Linked DNA regions of Homo sapiens. The protein of the gene in region 6 purifies or fractionates together with the protein of the main gene of each other region. This does not show direct contact. Each region holds a gene or a part of one and is shown on either strand. Other genes may lie near its edges. The genes, in order: RDH11, CYP51A1, TMEM63B, SNX14, DHRS7, TMEM268 and VRK2.

Evidence for each region.
Region 1: the proteins of TMEM268 (region 6) and RDH11 purify together in Homo sapiens (affinity purification with mass spectrometry; one large-scale study listed by BioGRID and IntAct). This does not show direct contact.
Region 2: the proteins of TMEM268 (region 6) and CYP51A1 purify together in Homo sapiens (affinity purification with mass spectrometry; one large-scale study listed by BioGRID and IntAct). This does not show direct contact.
Region 3: the proteins of TMEM268 (region 6) and TMEM63B purify together in Homo sapiens (affinity purification with mass spectrometry; one large-scale study listed by BioGRID and IntAct). This does not show direct contact.
Region 4: the proteins of TMEM268 (region 6) and SNX14 purify together in Homo sapiens (affinity purification with mass spectrometry; one large-scale study listed by BioGRID and IntAct). This does not show direct contact.
Region 5: the proteins of TMEM268 (region 6) and DHRS7 purify together in Homo sapiens (affinity purification with mass spectrometry; one large-scale study listed by BioGRID and IntAct). This does not show direct contact.
Region 7: the proteins of TMEM268 (region 6) and VRK2 purify together in Homo sapiens (affinity purification with mass spectrometry; one large-scale study listed by BioGRID and IntAct). This does not show direct contact.

Annotation. Positions count from the first base shown.
Region 1 is NC_000014.9:67,685,765-67,689,264, forward strand, and holds part of RDH11 (retinol dehydrogenase 11), read right to left. Parts: intron 1-3,500. UniProt on the Homo sapiens protein: Retinol dehydrogenase with a clear preference for NADP. Displays high activity towards 9-cis, 11-cis and all-trans-retinol, and to a lesser extent on 13-cis-retinol.
Region 2 is NC_000007.14:92,127,978-92,131,477, forward strand, and holds part of CYP51A1 (lanosterol 14-alpha demethylase), read right to left. Parts: intron 1,080-3,500; coding exon 903-1,079; intron 1-902. UniProt on the Homo sapiens protein: Sterol 14alpha-demethylase that plays a critical role in the cholesterol biosynthesis pathway, being cholesterol the major sterol component in mammalian membranes as well as a precursor for bile acid and steroid hormone synthesis.
Region 3 is NC_000006.12:44,134,054-44,137,553, forward strand, and holds part of TMEM63B (mechanosensitive cation channel TMEM63B), read left to right. Parts: intron 1-366; exon of another isoform or gene 367-507; coding exon of another isoform or gene 508-531; coding exon 532-690; intron 691-963; coding exon 964-1,043; intron 1,044-1,274; coding exon 1,275-1,313; intron 1,314-2,295; coding exon 2,296-2,386; intron 2,387-3,500. UniProt on the Homo sapiens protein: Mechanosensitive cation channel with low conductance and high activation threshold. Osmosensitive cation channel preferentially activated by hypotonic stress.
Region 4 is NC_000006.12:85,510,359-85,513,858, forward strand, and holds part of SNX14 (sorting nexin-14), read right to left. Parts: coding exon 3,442-3,500; intron 1-3,441. UniProt on the Homo sapiens protein: Plays a role in maintaining normal neuronal excitability and synaptic transmission. May be involved in several stages of intracellular trafficking. Required for autophagosome clearance, possibly by mediating the fusion of lysosomes with autophagosomes.
Region 5 is NC_000014.9:60,151,899-60,155,398, reverse strand, and holds part of DHRS7 (dehydrogenase/reductase SDR family member 7 isoform 1 precursor), read left to right. Parts: intron 1-1,333; coding exon 1,334-1,440; exon of another isoform or gene 1,441-1,447; intron 1,448-2,220; coding exon 2,221-2,460; intron 2,461-3,500. UniProt on the Homo sapiens protein: NADPH-dependent oxidoreductase which catalyzes the reduction of a variety of compounds bearing carbonyl groups including steroids, retinoids and xenobiotics.
Region 6 is NC_000009.12:114,609,989-114,614,090, reverse strand, and holds the start of TMEM268 (transmembrane protein 268), read right to left. Parts: upstream 2,801-4,102; 5' UTR 2,527-2,800; intron 2,521-2,526; exon of another isoform or gene 2,089-2,520; intron 1-2,088. UniProt on the Homo sapiens protein: Stabilizes cell surface expression of ITGAM and participates in the adhesion and migration of phagocytes during bacterial clearance.
Region 7 is NC_000002.12:58,157,589-58,160,371, reverse strand, and holds the end of VRK2 (serine/threonine-protein kinase VRK2), read right to left. Parts: intron 1,130-2,783; exon of another isoform or gene 1,024-1,129; coding exon 679-1,023; 3' UTR 608-678; coding exon of another isoform or gene 572-607; 3' UTR 501-571; downstream 1-500. Other genes in the region: E3 ubiquitin-protein ligase FANCL, read left to right, coding at 193-324. UniProt on the Homo sapiens protein: Serine/threonine kinase that regulates several signal transduction pathways.

The DNA.
Region 1 (3,500 bases), on a different chromosome or scaffold from region 6:
GCCACCACACCAGGCTAATTTTTGTATTTTTAGTGGAGACGGGATTTCATCATGTTGGCCAGACTGGTCTTGAACTCCTGACTTCAAGTGATCTGCCCACCTCGGCCTCCCAAAGTGCTGGGATTACAGGCGCCCATCCCCTTCTTAAAGTCTTCTTTTTCACTGGCTTCCATAAGCCTATGCCACTTCTGGTTTTCCTAACCTTTCTGGCTGCTCTGTCTCAGTTTTCTGGACCAGTTCATCATCTTCTACACAAACATTAAATGTTGGAGTTCTCGTGGCTCACCAGACTCCCTCTCCATAATTCTATGGTGCTCACATTTTGTCCACAGTCCAAACTGCTCCTCTGAACTGCAGACACACTGGGAGTCAACACAATGTGGTGGTTATGGGCATGGATTTTGTAGACAGACTGCCCAGTTTCAAATCCTGGCTCCACTCATTAGCTGTGTAACCTTGGGCAAGTTCCCTTTTGTGACTCATTTCTTCATCTCTAAAATGGGAATAATCATAATACTTACAACCTCACAGGGTAGTTATGAGGATTAAATGAGTTCATATATGTTAAAGGTCTTAAAAGAGTGCCTGATGCAGCTGGGCGTGGTGGCTCACACCTATAAGCCTAGCATTTTGGGAGGCCAAGGCAGGTGGACTGCCTGAGCTCAGGAGTTATAGACCAGCCTGGGCAACACAGTGAAACCCCGTCTCTACTAAAATAGAAAAAATTGGCCGGGCATGGTGGCGTGCACCTGTAATCCCAGCTACTTGGGAGGCTGAGGCAGGAGAATGACTTGAACCAGGGAGACAGAGGTTGTAGTGAGCCGATATCGTGCCACTGCACTCCAGCCTGGGCGACAGAGTGAGACACCGGTGCAAAAAAAAAAAAAAAAAAAAAGTGCCTGATGCATGGTAAGTGCTAAATGATACTTTTGCACATGCTATTTCAGGCCCCCAATCCTTTATGGAAAACGCTGGGGCCAGACATACTTCAATTTTTTTCTCTGATTGTAGAAAGGTAATATGAAATGTATACATACACTGCCTATTAATCTAATCTCCCTAGTACAGGAAATGTTTTGCTGCCAAATGAGTTTTGGTGTAAAGCTTTGAAGAAACAGAATTTTTCTGGTCTTTGTGGACTGACAGCTGCAGACACAGCTGTATTATTCCCAACTGCCTACTCGACATCTCCCTAGATGACCCATAGTAATGCAGACTCAGAGGTCCCAAATTGATTTCTACTTTTAAAGCCAAACCTGGTTCTTGCAGTGTTCCCGACATGCCCAATCAGGCAAAAGGGTTCTGATGAATGCCCACCTAAAGCATGCATCTCCAGTCAACAAGCTTTCCCAAACCAAATCTCTCTCAGAAGTTTCTACTACCCTCCAATTCCACCACCTAGTCCAAACTACCCTCATTTCTCACCTCTGCTGATGAAATCAACTGCTGCAACCCCTCTTGCCCCCATTTTGAAAAGGCTTTAATTTTAACCGTTTCCCATTGCTCTTAGAATAAACACTAAAATCCTTACTGTGGCCTCTAAGGGTTTGGCATCTACCTACCTCACCAGTCTCAGCTCAGATCTTTATTACTCTTGCTTTCTACAACCTACCAATGGTAACCTTCGCTGTTTCTCAAACTGAGCCCGGACCTTTGTACATTCTCCTCCTTCTGCCTGGAATGTTTCTCAGCCTCCATATTCCTTTTTTTTTTTTTTTTTTTTGAGATGGAGTTTCACTCTTGTTTGCCCAGGCTGGGGTGCAATGGTATGATCTCAGCTCACCACAACCTCTGCCTCCCAGGTTCAAGCAATTCTCCTGCCTCAGCCTCCTGAGCAGCTGGGACTACAGGCACACGCCAACATGCCCGGCTAATTTTGTATTTTTAGTAGAGATGGGGTTTCTCCATGTTGGTCAGGCTGGTCTTGAACTCCTGACCTCAGGTGATCTACCCACCTCAGCCTCCCAAATTGCTGGGATTACAAGCATGAGCCACCACGTCCGGCCCTTTTTTTTTTTCATTTTTTCAGACAGAGTTTTACTCGTGACGCCCAGGCTGGAGTGCAATGGCATGATCTTGGCTCACTGCAAACTCTGTCCCAGGTTCAGGCGATTCTCCTGCCTCAGCCTCTCCAGTAGCTAGGATTACAGGCGCCCGCCACCACACCTGGCTAATTTTTGTATTTTTAGTAGAGACAGGGCTTTCACCAAGTTGGCCAGGATGTTCTCGAACTCCTGACCTCAGGTGATCCACCAGCCTCGGCCTCCCAAAGTGCTGGGATTACAGGTGTGAGCCACCGCGCCCGGCCTCAGCCTCCACATTCTATCAGTACCTCTAATCCATTTAATTTCTAATCATCCTTCGGGGCTCAGCATGCAACTCACTTCTTCAGGAAAGTCTTCCCTGAACCCTCAGACTGAATAAGGTCCCCCCAAGACTCCCACTAAAATCCATTGTAAGTCCTGGTACTTCTCCTTTATAACATTTATCACAATTATAATTAAACAGCCACAACAAAAAGGAAACAATCCAGATGTTGTTAAGGAAATACATAAATACACTAAGGCACATCTATACTACGAAATACAACACAGCCAATACAATTAAGGGGTAAATCCATATGTACTAAATGGAAAGATCTCCAAGATACTGTGTTGGAGTTTCAGTTCCTTGTGCATGATACATACATATGTAAATGCATAGGAAAATTATTGGAAAGGGGCACACAAGCTGTTGATAATGGTCATATGAAGGGAGAAGAGCAGGGGGAAGAGGGGAATAAATGAAGGTGGTTTTTCACCTTAATTCTACATACTTCCATATGCTTTGAACTCTTTTTTTTTTTTTTTTGGTAGAGGAGATGAGGTCTCACTATTTTGCCCAGGCTGATCTTGAACTGGCCTCAAGTGATCCTCCGGTTTTGGCCTCCTAAAGTGCCTGGGATTAAAGGTGTGAGCCACTGTGCCTGACCTTATTTGAGCTTTTTACAATGAGAATTATTCATGCATTACTAGACTGATTTTACATTTAATAGTTTGTATAAAGACTTGCTAATTGTCTTTCTCCCCCGTTAGATGTAAACCAAACCAAAGAAGAGACTATACCTATCTTGTTCACCAATTCATCCCCTGTCCCCTAACCCAGTGCACGGAACAACATGGGCACTGAATACGTGTCTGCTGAATGGCTGAATGAATGAATCTTCTGTCAAACCAGGGTTCTTTTACTGCACCATAATGATTTTCCACTGAATCCTCACAACTATCAGAGTCACCTCATTCATGTATTAGTGAATTCTCACCACTGGACCCATCTTTCCACCTCCAGGCCACCCTAGCTCCCTGATCAACTCTTTGGATAGTTTTCACCATCCAGTTACCCTTATCTATCCTAAACTGATAAAAGATGTCATGCCCTGGGCACAGACTGGGCATAAGGACTGAGCTAACCACCAGTTTCCTTCCCATCTCACAGATGTTCATTTGGTAGGATGATCCTAT
Region 2 (3,500 bases), on a different chromosome or scaffold from region 6:
CCCATACCAAGCATTGGGGCCAATTGTCTGATTTGTGTTCTATATCAACTTAAAACAATTTCGTATTTGGCTTTTGAGGGTAAAACATACACATAGATGTACCCCACACGTGAAGTTGTTGCATTAAAAGAGGACTTCTGAAGTCAGCAATCTCTAAACAGCGCTTATGTTAGAATTTCAGGCAGGAATGGGTAGGCAGGAAGTCCTTTTGATGAAGTAACAGCATTGTCTAATAACCCTTTCAAATTAAATCCCAGTATGCTAAGTTATCATTGATTCCATTATTTGTACAGGAAGCCCTTTAATATTGTTTAGCCATGACAGCAAATATAAAACTAAATACCCATTACTTATCAGTTATCCATGGCCTTTCTTCTCATGATTCTTCAGACTTTTGAACCAAGGAATAAACTGGTTCTACATTTTATTACATTTTTGTTTGGTTGGTTTCTGTGTGTGTGTGTGTGTGTGTGTGTGTGCGCGTGCGTGTGTGTGTGTGTGTTTGGTTTTTTGTTTCTGTTTTTGAGACAGGGTCTCACTCTGTTGCCAAGGCTAAAGTGCAGTGTTGTGATCTCGGCTCACTGCAACCTCCGCCTCCTGGGTTCAAGCGATTCTCATGCCTCAGCCTCCCAAGTAGCTGGAATTTACAGGTGTGCACCACCAGCCCCACCCAGCTAATTTTTGTATTTTTAGTAGAGACAGGGTTTCACCATGTTGGCCAGGCTGGTCTTGAACTCCTGACTTTGAGTGATCCACCCACCTTGGCCTCCCAAAGTGCTGGGATTACAGGAATGAGCCACCATGCCTGGCTGTTTCTACATTTTAAATGTATAATGTCTCACTATTAGCTATAACTACTGAGGTATAGATTTGTCTTTATTTATGGTAACAGTGTCACCTACTGGATTAGGCACATCGTATGCAACTCCCTTCCCAAACACAGGTGTTGTCAGGCGACTGTAGACATCTTCTGCATTCAGGTCTTCATTTTTACTATTAAAAAGCAGTGCAGCAGCATCACTCCCCAGAAGGTAAGTAAATGTCTTGCCTACCATGGTAAAACTAAATACAGGTCCATACTAAAAAGAGAAAAGTACATATAGTGATGTTACAAAAAATATGCAACACTACGACAGTAACTTTTTAAAATCACAAAATAATGCATTATTAAAAAAATAAAAACATATATAAACCTTAAAGCAATTCTTTTCATCTTGCCATACTCCTCCTTCCTTTGTCCAAATTTATAATTATGTTCATTTAGTTGCAAATGTAGTATAAATATAACTGTTTATTATGCTTTTTTCAGTTTATATTGACAATGTTTTCTATTGTCTATATAAACATCACAATGTTAATTTACTGACTACTCTTTCATTATTGGACATATGGGTGATATGTCAGGGTTTTCTTTAGTTATTACAGCTAATTCTGTGATGAACACCTCTGAAAATATAGACTTCTTCCCCCTTTGGTTAAAAACAAATTTTACAAGACTAGCCAAAGAATTTGACCTTTTCTATAGTACCTGCTATGTGAAGACACTACAAGTTTATTTATCTATTTTAGCACTATCTCACCTACACTAAATGACTTCATTTTTTATTTTATATTAATTTGGTTAGATGTTAAATACTTTCCCTTGCAGTTTTCTGGTTATGATTGAAGACTAGACTCTGGGGGTATAATCATGAAAAAAAATACTGTCCCAACTCACCAAGCTTAGTCTATTGGAAAAAATACAAATTAATCAAATAATCACATTAACAAACATAAAACTGCAAATGTGACAAGTATTACAGAAAGGAAAGCAACTCTGTGATGAGAGAATCTAAAAAAGGGAGACCTAATAGAGGAAAAGACAACTAGGTTGAGACCAGAAGAATGAGGAGCTGGTTTGGTAGCTAAACATACACAAAGGCCCTAAAAGTAAGAGAAAGAGAAAGGAGGAGATGAGAGTTGAGCATTAGGCAGTGCTAGACCATACAGAGCCTCATAAGCCATTTTGAGGAAGTTTTTAAACGGGTGACAAGAATTTTTCAGAGAAAAAGGAAAGATGCCATTGAAAAAGAAGTCAACAATACACTGAGAAAACAAATAAAAGTAAAAAGTTCCTGAGACAAAAGAGGGATGGAGAGTTCAGCCTCCGATAAGAGGCAAAATATAGTTGTAATAAAATCAAAGTGGTAGAACGCAGTGAGCCAGACTGTCCGTGTTCAAATCCCAGCTCCTCCACCTACTTGCTGTATGACTTTGGTCCTATAGTCAGAGAACTTAGTCTCTCTGTGTTTCGTTTCTCTCACCTATAAAATGGTAATAATAATAATAGCAGTTCTTCACAGAGCTGCTGCCAAATTTTATATACAGGGCAGAGAAGAGTACCTTGGCTTACTTAGCATCTTAATGACTTGTTTTCCATTATTGTTATCATTAATAAAAGTATAGGCTCAGAAATCAGACCATGTGTAAATCCTGGCTTGGCCACTGTCTAGCAGTGAGTCCAAGAAGAAATTATATATCCTCTCTGCTTCTCAGTTTTGTCATCTATAAAACAAATATACCTGAAAGGGTTTTTGTGGAGCTTCAGTGAGATGATCTTTGTAAAGCACTAAGTACTGGCATAAAGTAAGTGTTTGATAATTATTACTGTGATAGGAAGAAAGAGAATAGGATTACTATATAAATACAAGTAGGTTTGCATATTTGAAATTGAGAAAATGAGGAAGTTTTCTTTGAATGTTTTAATAATTGTCTCCTAAATCAACGTTTTTAATCATTGTCTCCTAAACAGGAGAAAAAATCATCTGCTTTGATGGAGAGGTAGAAAGATTCAGAAGTTTAGAAAAGTGAAGGTTTGAATTAGTCACTGTAATGAGTGGAAAAGTAGGCCCAATCACAAGAACATAATAGGACTGTGGAGCAGTGTTCAAATATCATTAAGGTAGGCAATCATAAAATCAGGAAGAAACTAATCTGGTGCAGAAGGAGACAATAACTGGCTGCCTCCAAGGGTGACTTCTGCCAGCTGAACACAATGAAAAGATGCGGGGTCGAGGAAATTTAAAGTACAGTATTGCCAAGAGTGTAACAGAAACGACATGCCATGGACCCAAAGCGGAAAGAGGAAAGTGAAGAATGAAGGCTGATGGATCAGGAGAAAGTAAATGGAATGCAAGATCCAATGAGGTCAAAGAATAGTTATAATTTAAGGAGTTGCACAAGCAAACCAGGAGACGGTATGGTCTACGAATAGGATATCTAAATTAATATTGTGGAAGTGAAACAGTTAAGAGTGACAAGTCCAAAGCGAGACTGTGAAGTAAATGGCTTAACTGGCACAGGGAAGCTCATTAGAGAGAAGACGGGCAAATAATTGAGTAGCTATGGTGTCATGTGGGTCATTCAAGTGGACAGTGAAATCACAGAAGATGTATAGAGCAGGTTAGAAAACCCCACAGATGCATGGTAAAGAAAAATGAGGGTTAATTAATATCAATTTT
Region 3 (3,500 bases), on a different chromosome or scaffold from region 6:
ATGCCATTTTTTCTAATAGGCATAGAAAGAAAAGATCAGGATGAGGCAGCTGGCTCCTGACCCATTCTCCCCTGACGTGGAGACCCCTCATCTTACCCTTGAGTCCTCAGGCCTAAGACCCCTCCCTGTCTTCCCAGGCTCAGCTCCGCCCCCTGCCCTAAGACAGAGAGAATGAGAGTGTGGGGGTGGCGGCGGCAGGGGGGATTTAGATAGATGTTAGAAAATCACAGATACCTTCCAGCTTAATGAAACCAGCCTCCCCAGTCCAGGCCTGGCATCTAGACTGAGTTCCCCAGACCCAGGGTGGGGTCATAGCCAGAGAGCCAGTGAAGGTAAATCCATGTGACTCAACTCTCCCCTCCCTAGGCCCTTATCTCCAGAGGCCAGAGCTTCCATCCACCCAGGCAGCCTGGTGATCTGTCCTCACTGCCCCCTCCCCACGCCCACCCTACTGGGCCATGAAGGGGATGGGGGCAAGCCCAGCTGACTGCTCCACCCTCTGCCCAGGAGGACCATGCGGCAGTAGCAGCCATGCTGCCCTTTCTGCTGGCCACACTGGGCACCACAGCCCTCAACAACAGCAACCCCAAGGACTACTGCTACAGCGCCCGCATCCGCAGCACTGTCCTGCAGGGCCTGCCCTTTGGGGGCGTCCCCACCGTGCTGGCTCTCGACTTCATGTGCTTCCTTGTAAGTGCCTGCTGCCACCCCTTACCTTGGCATCCATGCCCTGTACACACCTGGCAAACACTTCCAGCTCTAACCACTCTCCCACCTGCCCCGGTTTCCCAGGCTTAAGCAGGAGGAGTCCCCATCATCCAGCCCAAGCCTCGCCTTTGACCATTCACCCAAGCCAGGGTCATCCCCTTCTAAGACAAGATTTTGGACCCTCTGCTTCTGCCCCCTAGTCCAGCAGGTGGACAGACAGCCTCTGCACTTGCCAACTGCCCCCTCTTCCCTCAGGCACTGCTGTTCTTATTCTCTATCCTCCGGAAGGTGGCCTGGGACTATGGGCGGCTGGCCTTGGTGACAGATGCAGACAGGTAAGGGTCTGGGACCCTCCCTCTAGCTCTCCACACACACATCTTGTTCCACACTCCTCAGGAATAGGAAGGAGCCAGCCCTCTCTCATTCCCCTTTGCTGGGGGGATGAGAAGGGACTAGCCCCAATGTGGGCATGGGGGCATGAGGGCCCTAAGTTGGGCCCCTGTTCCTCACCTGTCCCCAGGGACTCTCCCCCGCCCCTGCTAACCCTGTCTGTTCTCTGTCCCCAGGCTTCGGCGGCAGGAGAGGGACCGAGTGGAACAGGAATAGTATGTGGGGCACCAGCCCCCTCATTCCCACTAAACCAGCTTTCCCTTTTCTTCTCTCACGCTTCTCTTCTCTTCCTGCCAAGTTGCTGGTTTCTTTTTGCAGTTTTCTCCTCTGCAGGCTCATGTTTCGGATTAACGCAGGCGGTGTGCTTTGCAGAGCAGGGGGCTCCCCAGCTTGTCTCTGCCTCACCTCCCCTTCATCTCTCCCTCTGGCTCCCTGCCTGGGAGAAGTCCCTCCCTGTGTGCCCCTGCCTATGCAGCCCTTGTTGGCTGGAGGGGAGGGGCTGTCCTCCAGGAAATCCTCAGCACAATCACGTAGAGACAAGATTGGGTGTCACCAGCAGCTTCTTGTCCGCTAACAGCTAGTTCTTCATATTCCAGGGTTCCCTGCTCACCTCTTCTGGAGGCCTGGGAGGAGGGCTGCCCAAGGAGCCCCCCAGTCTGGGCTTTTTTGTCACTTTGTCATCTCTGTCTATAGGATTGGAGTTGGAGTTGTAACAGCTGTTGGAGTCAGGGAAGAGGGAGGGGAGCGGAGGGTAGGGTCCCACCCAGGAGACCTTCCAGTCTCCCCAGCCCTTCCAGGTTCTCCTGGTCCATCCTTTCCTCCACCTCCTCATTGCTCTTTGCATAATGTTGGCTCCGTTGCCCGCCCCCGGCCCCTGCCAGTCAACTCTGGAACTGCAGGGCCCTCTGGCATTCTCGCTTCAGCCTCCTTAGGGAGATGATGAAGATTACCTCCTCCCTCAAGTCCCCACTGCCCACCATCAGTGCCCACCTCCGCTCCCACCCTGAGTCCCCCTGAAAGGAAGAGGCATATTTGAGGGAAGCAGGGTAGAGGGCAGTCATTCCTCTCTGCTTCAGCCTCTGCGCTTCCTGTGCCTTCTGTGCCTTCTGTAGCCCTGGAGCTCTGGAGCACTCAGCCCAGCTTCCCGGGGGCTCAGACTCACCAGGCTCTCTGATCTCTCATCTCCCTCACCCCCAGTGTGGCTTCAGCTATGCACGGGGACAGCCATGACCGGTATGAGCGTCTCACCTCTGTCTCCAGCTCCGTTGACTTTGACCAAAGGGACAATGTGAGTGCCCTCCCCCCAAACTTCTTAGTCCCCCACCCCACCCCCAGGGCACATGGGCTGAGAAGTCCCTCACTTTCAGTGATGTGGAGTCAGGGATGCTGGTTTGGCCTCCTCCTCAGCAAAGAAAGTGATTCAACCAAGGAGCCACAGGATGACCCCCCAGGCCCTGAACTCCTGGCTGCTGTCCTCTATGTCACAGTCTCCAAACTAGCACAGCCTTAACATTCATGAATTCCCAACTTTGTTTGCCATAAAGAGTTTTGTGCCCACTTCTGCTGATTAATCCTAAGGCCACCTTTTTTCCGTAGTCATGGTTTTAGAAATAATAATAAGCCCTTGGCTCACGCCTGTAATCCCAGCACTTTGGGAGGCCGAGGCGGGAGGATCACGAGGTCACTAGATGAGACCATCCTGGCTAACACGGTGAAACCCCGTCTCTACTAAAAATACAAAAAATTAGCCAGGCGTGGTGGTGGGCGCCTGTAGTCCCAGCTACTTGGGAGGCTGAGGCAGGAGAATGGCGTGAACGCGGGAGGCGGAGCTTGCAGTGAGCTGAGATGGCGCCACTGCACTCTAGCCTGGGTGACAGAGCGAGACTCCATCTCAAAACAAACAAAAAAAAGAAATAATAAGCCCTCCAGCCCTGCCTAGAAAAACAGAATCTGTCATGTTGCTCGGAGGTTGCAGGTGGGTGGCCCCTGGCCATGTGGGGCCGGTTGACCTGCTTGTGGATTGGAGCTGAGTGGCAGTGGTCCCTTTTAACAAGGCATATGAATGGCAATTCATAACAGACTCCAGACCCCTTTCATATCAGACCTAACACACAGGTGTTACCTGCCTGGCTCTCCATCATTAATTCCATGAGGGTAAGGAGCCTAGTCAGAACTCTAATCCTCAGACATGGTGTGGCCCTGGTCAGTCCCTCTTGGGCTGCAAGTCCTAGGGGTGGCAGCTCTTCCAGCAATTCCAGCAGAAGATGGCCTTCAGCTTCCTGAGTTGGACTCATACTGGTAGGTGGCAAAGTTGTCACATCTGCTAGCCAGAAGTGTCCAGATGGTCCCCAGACTCAGGTGATGTTGGCAACAGGTAGCATGGTCCTGAATCACGGCCGAAA
Region 4 (3,500 bases), on a different chromosome or scaffold from region 6:
TGTGCATTTCCTTGATGACATATGATGTAGAACATCTTTTCATATGCTTGTGTGTAATCTTCTTTGGTAAGGTGTCAAGATATTTGGCCAATTTTAAAATCAGGTTGTTTGTGTTCTTATTGTTGAGTTTCAGGATTTCTTTGTACATTTTTGGTAACAGTCCTTTATCTGATACGTCTTTTGCAAATATTTTCTCCCAGTCTGTGGCTTCTCTTTTCATTCTTTATAGTGTCTTTCACAAAGCAAAATTTTTAATTTTAATGAAGTAAAGATTATCAATTATTTCGTCTATGGTTCATGCCTTTGGTGTTGCAACTAAGAAGTCATCGCCAAACAGAAGGTCATCTACATTTTCTCCCATGTTATCCTCTAAGTTTTACAGTTTTGCTGTAAACTGTTCCTTTGCTAATAAGAACAGTTGCTGTAAGTCTGTTCTTTTGCTAATATCACACTTTCTTGATTACTGTAGCTTTATAGTATGCCTTGAAGAAAGGTAGTGTCAATCCTGTGACTTTGTTGTTCTCAATCAATATTGAGTTGGCTATTCTGGGTCTTTTTGCCTCTCCATATAAACTTTAAAATGTTTGTCAATACCCACAAAACAACTTACTGGGATTTGGATTGGGACTGCATTGAATCTATAGACGAAGTTCAGAAGAACGGACATCTTGAAAACAGAATATTTCTATCCACATAAAATCTCTCTCCATTTATTTAGTTCTTTGATTTCTTTAATTAAAGTTTTACAATTTTTCTCATATAAATCTTGTGCATGTTTTGTTAGATTACTACCCAAGTATTCCACTTTTGGGGGTGCTAATGCAAATAGTATTTTTTTTAATTTCAAATACCACTTGCTCACTGATGATATACACGAAAAGTAACTGAATTTTGTGTATTAACCTTATATCCTACCACCCTGGTAAAATTGCTTATTATTTCCAGGAGCATTTTTGTCAATTTTTGGATATTCTACATAGACAATCATGTCATCTGTGAACAAAGACAGTTTTATTTCTTTCTTCCCAATCACTATGCTCTTTATTTCCTTTTCTTGTCTTACTGCACTAACTAGGACTTCGAGTACAATGTTGAAAGCAGTAGTGAGAGCATGCCTTGTTCCTCATCTTAGTGGGATAGCTTTTAAGTTTTTCATCAAGTGTGATGTTAGCTATAGGTGTTTTTGTAGATATTCTTTATCAAGTTGAGGATGTTCCCCTCTCTTCCTAGTTTGCTGAGATCATAAGTGGGTGTTAGATTTTGTCAAATGCTTTTTCTGCATCTACTGCTATGATCATGATTTTTCTTCTTTAGCCTGCTGATGTGATGATGGACTACCTTAATTGACTTTTGAATGAATGCTGAACCAGCCTTGAATACCTGGGATAAATCCCACTTGGTGTATAATTCTAACATCCCTGCCATATCTGACTCTGGTTCTGATACTTGCTCTTTCTCGTCAAACTGTTTTTTCTTGCCTTTAATATGTCTTGTAATTTTTTTCTTGATAACTGGACATGACACACAAGTTAAGAGGAACTGCTGCAAACAGGCCTTTAGTAATGTGGTGATAAAATATGGAGGGAGAGGAAGGGTTCTATAGTCCTAGGAGGGGGTCTCAATCTTTTAGTGAGCTTGTACCACTGAACTGTGAACTTCACACATGCTTCTCAGGCCCCCCTGACCCCCTTGCACAGGACAAGATGGCTAGAGTGTATTGGAGTTGGGTATTTCCCTTCTTCCATGTGGAAGGCCAGGGCTGGCTAGAGTTGGTTCTTTCCCTTCCATCAGGTCAGTCAGGCTCTGGTCACTTTCTACTGAGGGTAGGGCCTTGTCAAGAACAGAATGCCCTGACTGATGTATTTCAAAATGGTTCCCTTCTGGCCCCCTTGCCAGAAGCACATGGGGATTTTTCTCCAATATTCACTGTGGGATCTTGGTCAAGGCCCTGGAGGTAAAACTCACAAAAAAAGTGTGGATGGGCTGGGCACGGTGGCTCACGCCTGTAACCCCAGCACTTTTGAAGGCCGAGGCGGGTGGATCACCTGAGGTCAGGAGTTCGAGACCAGCCTGACCAACAAGGGGAAACCCCATCTCCACTAAAAATACAAAAATTAGCCAGGCGTGGTGGTGCAGGACTGTAGTCCCAGCTACTCGGGAGGCTGAGACAGTAGAATTGCTTGAACCCAGGAGGCGGAGGTTGCAGTGAGCAGAGATCGTGTCATTTCACTCCAGCCTTGGTGACACAGTGGGGCTCTGTCTCAAAAAAAAAAAAAAAAAAATGTGGATGGGTAACCCCATGACTTGGTTCCCCTGGAGTTTTTAATCTCTTAAAAAGAGATTTAAAAGGCTGTAGCAATTTGTCAGTTATAGTTCAGGTTTCCCTAGCTCAGCACTGGCTTCTCCAGGGGTTTTGAGTTCACGGGTTTCTGCTGCAGCTAGCTATGATTCTCTCCAACCTTGGGGGGCAGTGGCTTGCCGTATGACCTCACTCTCTGGTGAATCTAAGAGTTGTTTAGTTTTTTTAGTTCATTCAGGTTTTTGCTTGTTACTAGGATGGAGTGATGATGGCCAGGTTCTTATGTGCCAGACCAGAAACTGGAAGTCACCCTTTTCTCTTCTTACTCCATACTTTCTCCCTATGCTTTAGTATCTACTCACACATGGCTCCCATATCTCTACTAATCTATCCTATACCACCTTTTCTCCAACTTTTGAACCTCGGTGTCTAAGTGTTTAACAGACACTTCCTCCTGAGTAATTTATAGGCACTTCTCATTCAAAATGTTCTAAACTAAGAATCACCTGCTTTGATCCCTTGACATTTCTTCCTTGTTATTTCCCGTCACAGTTAAGAGGTTACTACCACTCATTTCCTTAGTGGCCCAAACCTACCAACTTTACAGAGGAGGTGACCATCCTCCTCCTTTGTGATATCTCTGTAACTTGAAAATGCCTCTATTATCACATGTATGTTTTGTCTATATGCCTGTCTTCCTGCTAGACTGACCTACTCAAGTGCATTTTTTATATGCCTTGCATTTTGCATAGTGCCTGGAATATGGAAGGTGCTCAATAAATTTGGAATGAATGAATTCTGATCTTTTATCATACACACTAGTGAGCTATTCTTATGGTGTCGTGGACACAGGCCTTCAATTGTCCCACATGTCACTTTGACCAGTCTGACTATAAGTTATTTTTGAATGAATCTGGCTATTATGTGAGTAGAAACAGCCTTGCCTTAAAGTCCTAATATCTTAGTCTTAGTGCTAACATCTGAAAGAATTATTTAACTAGTGTGTTAATTTTAACTGATCTTTGCAACTATTTGTAAAATGAAAACTCACAGTAAAAAATTAGCTTCAATAATTACTATACATTGTGACCTCAACGGACTGCTAATCTATATGAAATTAAGTTACTTCTTAAATATTACACCTGGAATGTAATTCATCATTTCTTCAAAAGTCTGTTTTGCTCCTTTTTGCTTATCTTGG
Region 5 (3,500 bases), on a different chromosome or scaffold from region 6:
TGGCTCATTGCAACTTCCGCCTCACAGGTTCAAGCGATTCTTGTACCTCAGCCTCCTGAGTAGCTGGGGCCACAGACGTGCACCACCACACCCAGCTAATTTTTGTATTTTTAATGGAGACGGGGTTTCACCATGTTGGCCATGCTGGTCTCGACCTCCTGACCTCAGGTGATCTGCCTGCCTCGGCCTCCCAAAATGCTGGGATTACAGGTGTGAGCCACCGCACCCAGCCATTATGTTCACATTGAAAGCAACTTCAAGTATAAAGTTATTATTTTTCATGGAACATTTATTAATAGTACCTAAACTGAGATAATTTTGAATTTTCCAACAGACCATTTTTTGGGCCATCTCTCTACCTGTCATTCTTTTAAATCTTTAACTTTGCTGATCGAGCTAACCACCCAGAAATGAGAGTTAGTTGCCACAGTAGTGCTCAGCAGGGCAACAGGCCTCTTTCATGATACTGCTTTCAAAGGCCTCTTGTGTTTTTGCACTGGGCCACTTCTTTTGATAGTTGTTCCTCTACTGCTGTGACTTGCAAGTCCTGTACTGGTGGAGTAGATGAACCAGGTCAGCATTTCTTACCTGGCACAAGGCTGTTTCCTTTTATCTTGCAGATCTGTAGTGCCCACTTTTTCATTTAATACAGTTGATGTTTCACGCTTAACTCTTTTGCCCATGAAGTCTTTTTACCTCTTCTATTTTCTATACTTGCTTGTTTTTCTTACTGATGTTACTTGTATTTCAAGGTTAGAGTCCAGGAAAATTAGTTTCAGTTGTTCTTTTGATGAACAGAAAGCCAATCACAAAGCAGCAGCATGTTTCTTGGTTGGGAATTTCAGGCATGTGTCCTTTTCCCTGTTTACCTCCAGGAATCCTTAGCCTCTGGAGAGAAGCTTCTATATGTCATTTGACTGTAGGACTCTGAGCTTCTTACTGATTTTAAGCACAAGTAGTTGTTTTGTGTGTAGAAGAGCAACTCATCTTTGTGAGCCTATCACAAAACAAAGGTACCTCTGTACTTCTAAAGAAATTGCTCTAAAATATTTGCTCTTTTCTAGTTTGTAGTATAATCTTGATTTCTATCAGAAATCAAATTGTAAAGTTAGACTGCATATTCAAGTTGCCATTCTACTTCCTGTGAGGCCAGCCAGCTTTTTGTCTGATATAACCACTAGTCCTCTTCCTGACCACCGAGAGGAACTTTCACAGGGCCACCCAGAAATGAGTTTGTTGCCAAGTCCTGTTGCAGGGTGGGTGTTAGTGGGAGTAGCAAGGAGCTTGACTGAACTATGGCATGACTTCCACACAAATTTTTGTCTTTATTTAGAGAATGGCAATTTAAAAGAAAAAGATATACTTGTTTTGCCCCTTGACCTGACCGACACTGGTTCCCATGAAGCGGCTACCAAAGCTGTTCTCCAGGAGTTTGGTAGAGTAAGTAGCATCTTATATTGATATAGTCTTGCTTTGAAGTAACTGCAGAAGAGATTCCCATCCGTGGTGCTGTCATACAAAGGGCTTTAGGCAAGTGGGGTCCATGCAGTGAGATCGGGCCCATGAGTTGGGCCCCTTAATCTCTGAGCCTTTGTCATTATGGAATTAGTACTTTTCATGTCTTAACAAGTACAAATTCCTCCATGTAGAACAAAAGAAGCTAAAAATTCACGGCTGCTTTTATTTATTTATTTATGTATTTTGAGACAAAGTCTTGCTCTGTCGCCCAGGCTGGAGTGCAGTGGTGTGATATCGGTTCACTGCAATCTCCGCCTCCCAGGTTTAAGGGATTCTCCTGCCTCAGCCTCCTGAGTAGCTGGGATTACAGGCATGCACCATCACGCCCAGCTAATTTTTATATTTTTTAGTAGAGATGGGGTTTCACCATGTTGGTCAGGCTGGTCTTGAACTCCTGACCTCATGGTCCACCCTCCTCAGCCTCCCAAAGTGCAGGGATTACAGGCTACTGTGCCCAGCTGGCTGCTTTTATTTATTTTAATGACAATTATTAACTTTCACAAAAAGTCACCTAAAACGGGAATTTAATTCCACAGGTAAATTCAGGGCTTTATTTTATCTTTTTAATTGCTGACTTCTGGAAATATACCATTGTTCCATTGATTCTTTAAGTTAACAAAATAACCAACCATCCATAGGAATTCCATCAATCTATCCACAAGACATCCCCCAAACACCCCTTTTCTGATTTTATTTAACTAGATCGACATTCTGGTCAACAATGGTGGAATGTCCCAGCGTTCTCTGTGCATGGATACCAGCTTGGATGTCTACAGAAAGCTAATAGAGCTTAACTACTTAGGGACGGTGTCCTTGACAAAATGTGTTCTGCCTCACATGATCGAGAGGAAGCAAGGAAAGATTGTTACTGTGAATAGCATCCTGGGTATCATATCTGTACCTCTTTCCATTGGATACTGTGCTAGCAAGCATGCTCTCCGGGTAAGGCTGCTCAAACTCAACTCTGATAGAACTGACTTAAATGTGTATATGGGGGATATGGCCATCACTGTGTGAGGTCCTTGGAACTGGAAGTGATGTGGGGAGACAGAGAGACCCAAGGAGACTTTTGGTAGAGGACACCCCCAGTAGATGCTAAAAAAGACTTGATCCACACATGCCTCTAACTTGTTGAACAAATAAATATGTATCAAGCACTGCATTGTGCCATGTACTACAACAGACCCTGGGGATATAAAGATAATAAGATGTGGTCTCTGCCCTCAAAAAGTGTATCATCTATTTAACATGTTACTCTTCACCTTATCCTTATTCCTACTAAATCTTCATGGAAAATTGGGGGTCCACTTCTCCTTTCTTCTACATACACTTCAGGATGTACTTTTTCCTCCCCATTTCTGTGACTTCTTTTCCTTGCCCCTTGTAGTTGGTGTTTATTTTGCCTGGTCTAATTATATATGCATGTCAGAAATAGGTACTTCCCACAGGATGATTAGTCCTGGTCTCATATCCTTACTGGGAAAAATCTTGACTGTATTCTCTCTGGTTTCATTGGAAGAAGAAAATCTAGTCAAGGCAGAGGCAAGGAGAGAAGCTTGATTTGGACTGCATAACTTACGATGTATAAATATTAGAAATGGATGAATTTTTAATGGTGGCTTAAGACTGGATATAAAGAAATTATAAGGCCAATAGGAAAAGAATGATTAAGGAAGACACAAAATTTATATTTAAAGCTGTTGAAGTCAGTTTAAGTAGAATGTTTCACTGTTGGAATCATGAGATGCAATAGCTACATGGTCATCATGGTTTCATGAAAATTTGAAGCTTTGGTTCTTTAGGACATCTTTTTTCTGCTGCAAAGTGCAGACAATTGCAGACAGTGATGAAGCGGAATGCTATACTGATGATTTCCTCATATTTAGTAACAGGCATCAGTCACTTCCTGTGGAGCAGTTGGGCAAGCCTCAGGCAGGCAGATGAGGGAGGGCGGCCACCCATCTGTTTGGCACCACGTGTCT
Region 6 (4,102 bases):
GTAAAATGGGGATAGAGAGGTCTACCTCCTATAGCTGCTGTGGGGATGTAACAGAAGGAAATGCAAGCATAATATCCAGTACTCGGCTCACCAGACAGGCCCCTTTCCTCAACATGATTTTCCTATTTTACAGGAGAAAAAACCGCAGGTCAAAGATGTAAAGTGACTTGCCCAAGGTTGGGAGGCTATGCTACCAGCCATGGAGCCAGGAGATAAACCCAAGCCATCTGGCTCCAGGGTCCAAGCCCATAATTTCCATGCCCTTGCCCCTCTGCACTCTAGTGTGACTGTCTCTGAGAATGTTCATGAAATCACCCTTACAAAACAAAACAAAACAAAACAAAAAAGAGTGAGTCAAGGGAGACTGCATTTCCCAGGCAAGATCAAGCAACAAATGCAAGTCAGCCCTGAGATGCTACTCTGGGGATGGCAGGGGCCTTCTCCTCCTCACCTGGCCCACAGCAGGAGACTCTCCTAAATATGCTAAGTGTTTCTCACTCTCATCACGCCTTACTTTCTTCCTGTACCAACAAAAATAGCCACAAGGATCTCTGCCCTGCACTTGATAATCACTGAAGCCCTTCCCTCCTTCATTTGATCATCTCTTAGGCCCCTGAGGCAGATATAATTCTGAGATCCATGTTCCAGACAAGAAACGAAGGGACATCGTAGCTAGGGGCCTACAGCCCAGAGAAGCTGTACTAGAGTCTCAAAAAGGCCTGGGGGACCGAGCAGCCACGAGGGACCATGCCCAGGCTGGAGTTGCACAGGTAGCCTTTCAGACTGCGTGGAAGGTTCCATTTGTTGCAAAATCCCCCCATGAGGCAATGTCTTTCAGAAGAAACCACAGCACTCTACTTGGCCCCATCAGCCTCTCACAAAGTACTAATCAGCAGGCTTTATTCCATTCACCTGGAGGCTGTTTCCTGTAATAGCTAAAAGTAACCGGCCCTGTCCTGCCGCTTCTCACCTGTGTAACCTTGAGTAAGTTACTTCTCTGCCTCAGTTTCCTTACATGTAAGTGGGGATAACGACAGTAACTTCAGGTGGTTGTGAGGTTTAAAGAGTTCACACATGTAAATCACTCAAAATAGCACTGGGCAAGTAGGAATCATTGAAGAAATATAGCTGCCATCATTTTTACTCCACAGACATTTCCTAAGCACCTTCTCAGGCCAGGCCCTGTGCTATCTTGAGCACGAAACTGGAAATAAAATCTGAAGTTCCTACTCAGCCCTCCCTGCTAGGGATCACCATCTGGTAGGAAAGACAAACTCAGGGAAAGACAATTACAAAACAAACAATTGCAACAAGGCAGTGAGAGGGAGCACCTTGGTTGGGGTGGGGGAAGGGTTCTCCGGAAGGCTTCCTGGAGGAAGGAGGCTCCTGGGCTTGGCAAAGGTGGAGGTGAGAGCCAAGAGAGGCCAGTGCCAAGCAGAAAGGGATATGGACCAGAGGCCAGGACATGCCCATCAGGGCAGCCTGTGTGGTCACCTTGCAGCCCCTCATTCAACCAGGAAGCTGCAGAGGGCAGGAGGGGTGCTGGCAAGACCTCAAGGGCAGATGCCTATCATATGTCCTGAACCCCATTTCCCCATCCAGCTCAGCCCTGCACCAGCCCGAGGATAACACAGAAGGTCAGACAGACAGCAGGGTGGAGGCAGAGCAGGGGGAGTGAGCACAGCCTTGAGGCCCCTGCAACTAAGCAGGAAAACTAGAGCTTCTCTGGGTCTCCTCTGCTGATTCTGCATTTTAACCAGAACTTCCAGATATCCATCTTGCACAAGGTCAACTCCCCTCTTTTTCAGCCCGTAGAGAGCATCTGCAAAGGAACATACTCTTAAGTCCTATTGCGCAAAGGCCCCCAGCTCTGCAGACACCGAGTGCCCAGCCTCCCCGGGAACTATGTGCAGCACTGAGATTCGTCAGTTTCCTAAGTCAGGTTTTGTTTTGTTTGTGAAAAACACAACACGAGACCCTAAGAGGGCCTGTTACAGAAGTTTCGGGGCGGAAAAACCTTGAGACACAATGAGTCCGAGCTCTCCATTTTACAGGTGAGGACGTTAAGACCCAGAAAAGAAAGTGTACCATCCAAGGTCAAGGAGCCAGTCCTGGACTGGGCCAGAATTGAAACCCAGGCTCCTTCACGCCAGCTGGAGCTGTCTCGCCATACACGGCCTTGGCCTTGGGCAGCTGTCTCGTCCCAGTCTCAGTCTCCGCCCTCTGGAACTGTCCAGGTCGGCTGAGGATGGGGGATCTCCTTCTCCCCATAAATCAGTCTGGCCCTCCCCAACCGCGGGCCCCCAGGAGGCTTGTCAGAGCCGCTCCCACGGCCGGCACGCGGGGGAGGGGCCCCAGGGCGCACGAAGGACCCCCCGCAGGCTGCCCGCCGCGCCGAACCCAGGCCGTCTGGCCCGAACGCAGGCCAAGGCGGAGGCGCCCAGGCTGCTTCCCGGCCCCGGAGCCCCACAGCACCAAGCCCGGATCGCAGGACACGGGCGCGCGCCCGGGCCCGCGCACACTCACCGCCCGCGCCGCCGCCGCCGCCGCCGCCGCCACCCCGGGACGCGGAAGGTCGGGGGCGCCGAGCCCCTAATGCCGCAGCCTCTGGGCACCGCAGCCCCGCGCCCAGCACGCCTCCCGCGCCGCGCTGCGCCGCCTTCACGGGCCCGCCCCCCGCCCGGCCGGCCCCGCTCGGTCGCCCAACCCCGAGGAGCCGCCCGCCGGACTCGCTTTGGGGCCAAGAGGGAACGCGCCTCCCGGGCCCGCGGCGGAGCGGAGCTGGAGGCCGCGTTTCATCAGCCGAGCGCCCCCCCGGGACGCCGGAAGGAGCCTCCGCGCGGAGCCGACCACGTGCACGGCATCTTGGGGCACGGGTTCCCGCCGTCTCCCCACTGTAAAGGAGCGGCTTACTCCAGAGGTCCAGCCCCCTCACACACAATCACGGAACCCGTGGATGAGGCAGTATTTGAGACCAGAAGTTTATTGGGGACTTGGGTTTGGTTTTTGTTTGGTTGGTTTTGTCGTTGTTTTTAGAGTCGGGGGTTTCGCTGTGTTGCCCAGGCTGCTATCGGACTCCTGACCTCAAGCGATCCTCTTGCTTGGCCTCCCAAAGTGTTGGGATTACAGGCGTGAGCCACCGCACCTGGCCGGGGACTTGTTTCTAATGGAAAATTGTGTATGTGCTGTATTGTTAAGAGCATTGGTTTGGGGTCAGACTAGGCTGTGATTCGGGTCTCTCCACTTCTTATTATCGTCTTTGGTAAATTATTTAACCTCTTTGTGCCTTCGTTTTCTGTAAAAAGCAGATAATTATAGCTACTTCATGAGGTCGTGTGAAGATTTAATGAGATAGTGTGTGTGAAATGTTCACAGCTACCAGACACATACTCACTCGTGTTCCCAATTGCTATACTCACAAGGGCTCACTCCCATCGCCATCCTTCGTAATTTCAAAGGGTCTACGGTTAAAAGTAAGTAACCTTTCCCCTGAGGAAAACACTAACCTTGTGCTTTCCTTGTATTTTTCCTTAGAGCACATATGTACCTGTGCGTGTGTGCGTTTACACAAAGGAAGGCCTTTTCTATTCTGTTGGGCACTCTGCTTTTTCATTCGACAAAGTACCTTGGCGCTCATCGGCCAGAACGCGCCACACTGCCTCATTTCCTTTTAAGGGGCACATAAACGTCCCTATATTAATATTAGGTTTGCGCAAAAGTTATTGCGTTTTTTTGCCATTAAAAACATTACAGGCTGGGCGCGGTGGCTCACGCCTGTAATCCCAGCACTTTGGGAGGCCGAGGCGGGAGGATTACCTGAGGTCGGGAGTTCGAGACCAGCCTGATCAACATGGGGAAACCCCGTCTCTACTAAAAATACAAAATTAGCCGGGCCTGGTGGCGCATGCCTGTAATCCCAGCTACTCGGGAGACTGAGGCAGGAGAATCGCTTGAACCCGGGAGGTGGAGGTTGCGGTGAGCCGAGATTGCGCCATTGCACTCCAGCCTGGGCAACAAGAGCAAAACTCCATCTCAAAAAAAAAAAAAATTGCAAAAACCGCGATTATTTTTGCACCAACCTAATAGAAAGGGTCTTTGTTTT
Region 7 (2,783 bases), on a different chromosome or scaffold from region 6:
TCCCTTGTTACTCAACATCTTAATAGTCTGCTATTGGCTCAGGAAATACATCCCTTACTCTTGCAAAACAAAATTAAGCTAAGTCTTCTGGAATAAAAACATAATGCACTTAAAAACAAAGGGAATGACATTTGGAGTATCTGTAATTTGTAATCATGCTGACGCTTCTCCTTTATCTTTTAAAATTTGCAGTGGCTGAGAGGACTACTAACTAGTAGACAGAGTTTTAACATCATATTTGGTGAATGTCCATATTGTAGTAAGGTAAGCAAATTGTTAATCACATCTCATAAAATGTGCCTAGCTTTCAGTAATATGTTCTAGAAGATAGATCTATATAGTATATCAGTTTATCTAAAACTTTTGAAACTCATTCTCTGTATTTCTATTTTTCAAATTCTCTGATCAAAAACATTAAACTCCTTTTCTAGATTTCCTAGGTGATCTGAAACTTCAGAAGTGTTTTCCAAACTGTACTATGACACTATTCTATGACACTATTTCTAGTACAAAGCAATTTTATTTTTTAGAGTGTCCACAAACTTTGTTAAAATATGTTCTCTTTTTAAAGCCAATTACCTTAAAAATGTCTGGAAGGAAACACTGAAATAAGAATACAACATTTCGGTGAAGAGCTGGAAACTTAAAAAATTATCAAAAGGAATTTTGGTATCATCTTCAGAGAAAAAATAAAGCAAGAAATACTAACATCAAAAGGACAGGTATGATGATGCGATAATAATAAACATCTGCGTTTGTCTCTTCACTAAGAGTAAACTGGGAAATTGTAGGCCAAAGTCCAGTTGAACTTTCTAAGTCTGTGATCCCCGTGCTGACTGTGGAAGTGTATTTATACCAAGATGGAGATCTTGACTTCTTGAATATATCTGGACTGGTAAAATCTTGATGAGGCTCATAAAATGAGTTTGGGAATTGTGTATAGCTGATTTTTTGTGGGAAACTGTTTACTTCATTCAAAGGTTCTTGAGACTCTTGATATTTCTGTCTTCTCCTTGTGCTTTCCTATGGAAAAAATACATATATAGTTTAGTTTGTTAGACGTGAGTTATCCAAGTATTTATTTTGTGTAGTGTGTAAGAATGCTAAATAAAATGTTATACAAGATCAAGTTTTTGCGTGTTATTTTTCCTGAGAAGTAATTTTTAGGTAAAGATCTTAAAGATTTACACTTTTTAAGAGTTTATAAACATCCAACAAGCAAATCTGGATATAATTTGAGTGGTTCTTTTAAACCACGTCAGTAGGCCATCTCTTAAGTAATTTATAATCTAAAAATAAATAGGATAGAATATGAAAACTGAATTTTCTTGGCAAAACCAAAAAATTGGGCTTAATCTTAAGGGGGTAAGATAGCCATAATTAGAAATATTTTGGTCATTAATGTGATTCTTTCTTTACCTTCTGATTCCATGGCAACTGAGAAGTGTCCACTGTACAGTGGGCAAAGGATGAGGCTGTACACAGCCAAAGAAAACTGCCTCAGGGGTAGCTATAGTGTTATGTCTCTTGGAAAGCTATACAGACGAACCAGTATAGACCGAATAGATATTAATATAAAGCAAATTAAGTGGTATTAATATAAAACAAATTAACTGGTTACTTATGCAAGTTTCGGGAGCTACTTCTATGTTTTCATCATTCCTGTTGGCCAAAGTCCCAGGAATCAGTTTCCTGATCACCACTTAACTGGCTGAAAGTCGAGTTTTTCTGCTTTGCTTTGGTGACATCTGGCATGCCCCCTCAGCACCATTTATCAAGTAACTAACTTAGAAGAGAAGAAATTTATAAAACAAAGCAAAATACTTTAAGCTTGTTCACTGTCCATCATTCTCAGAATAGCTACTACCTTCTCAACCTTTAAACTGCCACCCTTCAAACAAACAGCCCTCCCCTTTCTAGATACAGAGTTTTGGAAGTGTCAGAAAGGAGTCCTACATAAAACAAAGGATGTTTTAAAAACTACTAGCTTTCCTATGAAAAAAAATTACTTGAGAGTTAAATGACTCACTTTAGAGTTAAATAACTCATTTTAAACTACTCTTTCTGAGCTAACGAAGTCACATTAATGCAGTTTTTCATAAGTTTGTCAGCTTTATTAACTAAAGTCAAAATAAGTGAATAATTATTCCAGTAGGCCTATAAAGCATAATACAAATAATAATTATGCTATCAAATCATAGAGCAGCATTTACATATAGCTCACATGTGCAAGGCTGGGAGATATCTCCACTTAGGTAAGGATAGAAGTCAAGCTACTATAATTTCCAGAATCATCTACTGTGTAATCTATACACTTAATCTCTCTTGAACATCAGCAAATGACATCATATGGCAAGGCACTCATCAAAGAATTTAACCACCTGTTGTCTTCAGTACACTGAGGGGGTCTGATTAGGATAGTCTATAACAGGAGTTGCCAAAATTTGGCTTGGCTAGTTGCCTGTTTTGTGAATAAAGTTTTATTGGAACAGAGCCACATCAATTTGTTTATGTATTGTCTATGTGGGCTTTTGCACTACAATGGCATTGTTGAATAGTTCTGACAAAAACTGTATGGAAAGTAAACTGAAAATATTTTCTTTCTGGCCTTTTAAGAAAAGGTTTGCTGACCCCTGCTCTACGGCATTATTCTTCGAGTATTAGAAAGCAAACAGATCATCATAACTTGTTAAAATGCAGATCTCATTCAAAAGGTCTAGGAGTATGACCTGAGATTCTGTATTTCTGAGAAGCTCCAGATGATGCCAATACAGCTGGTCTGC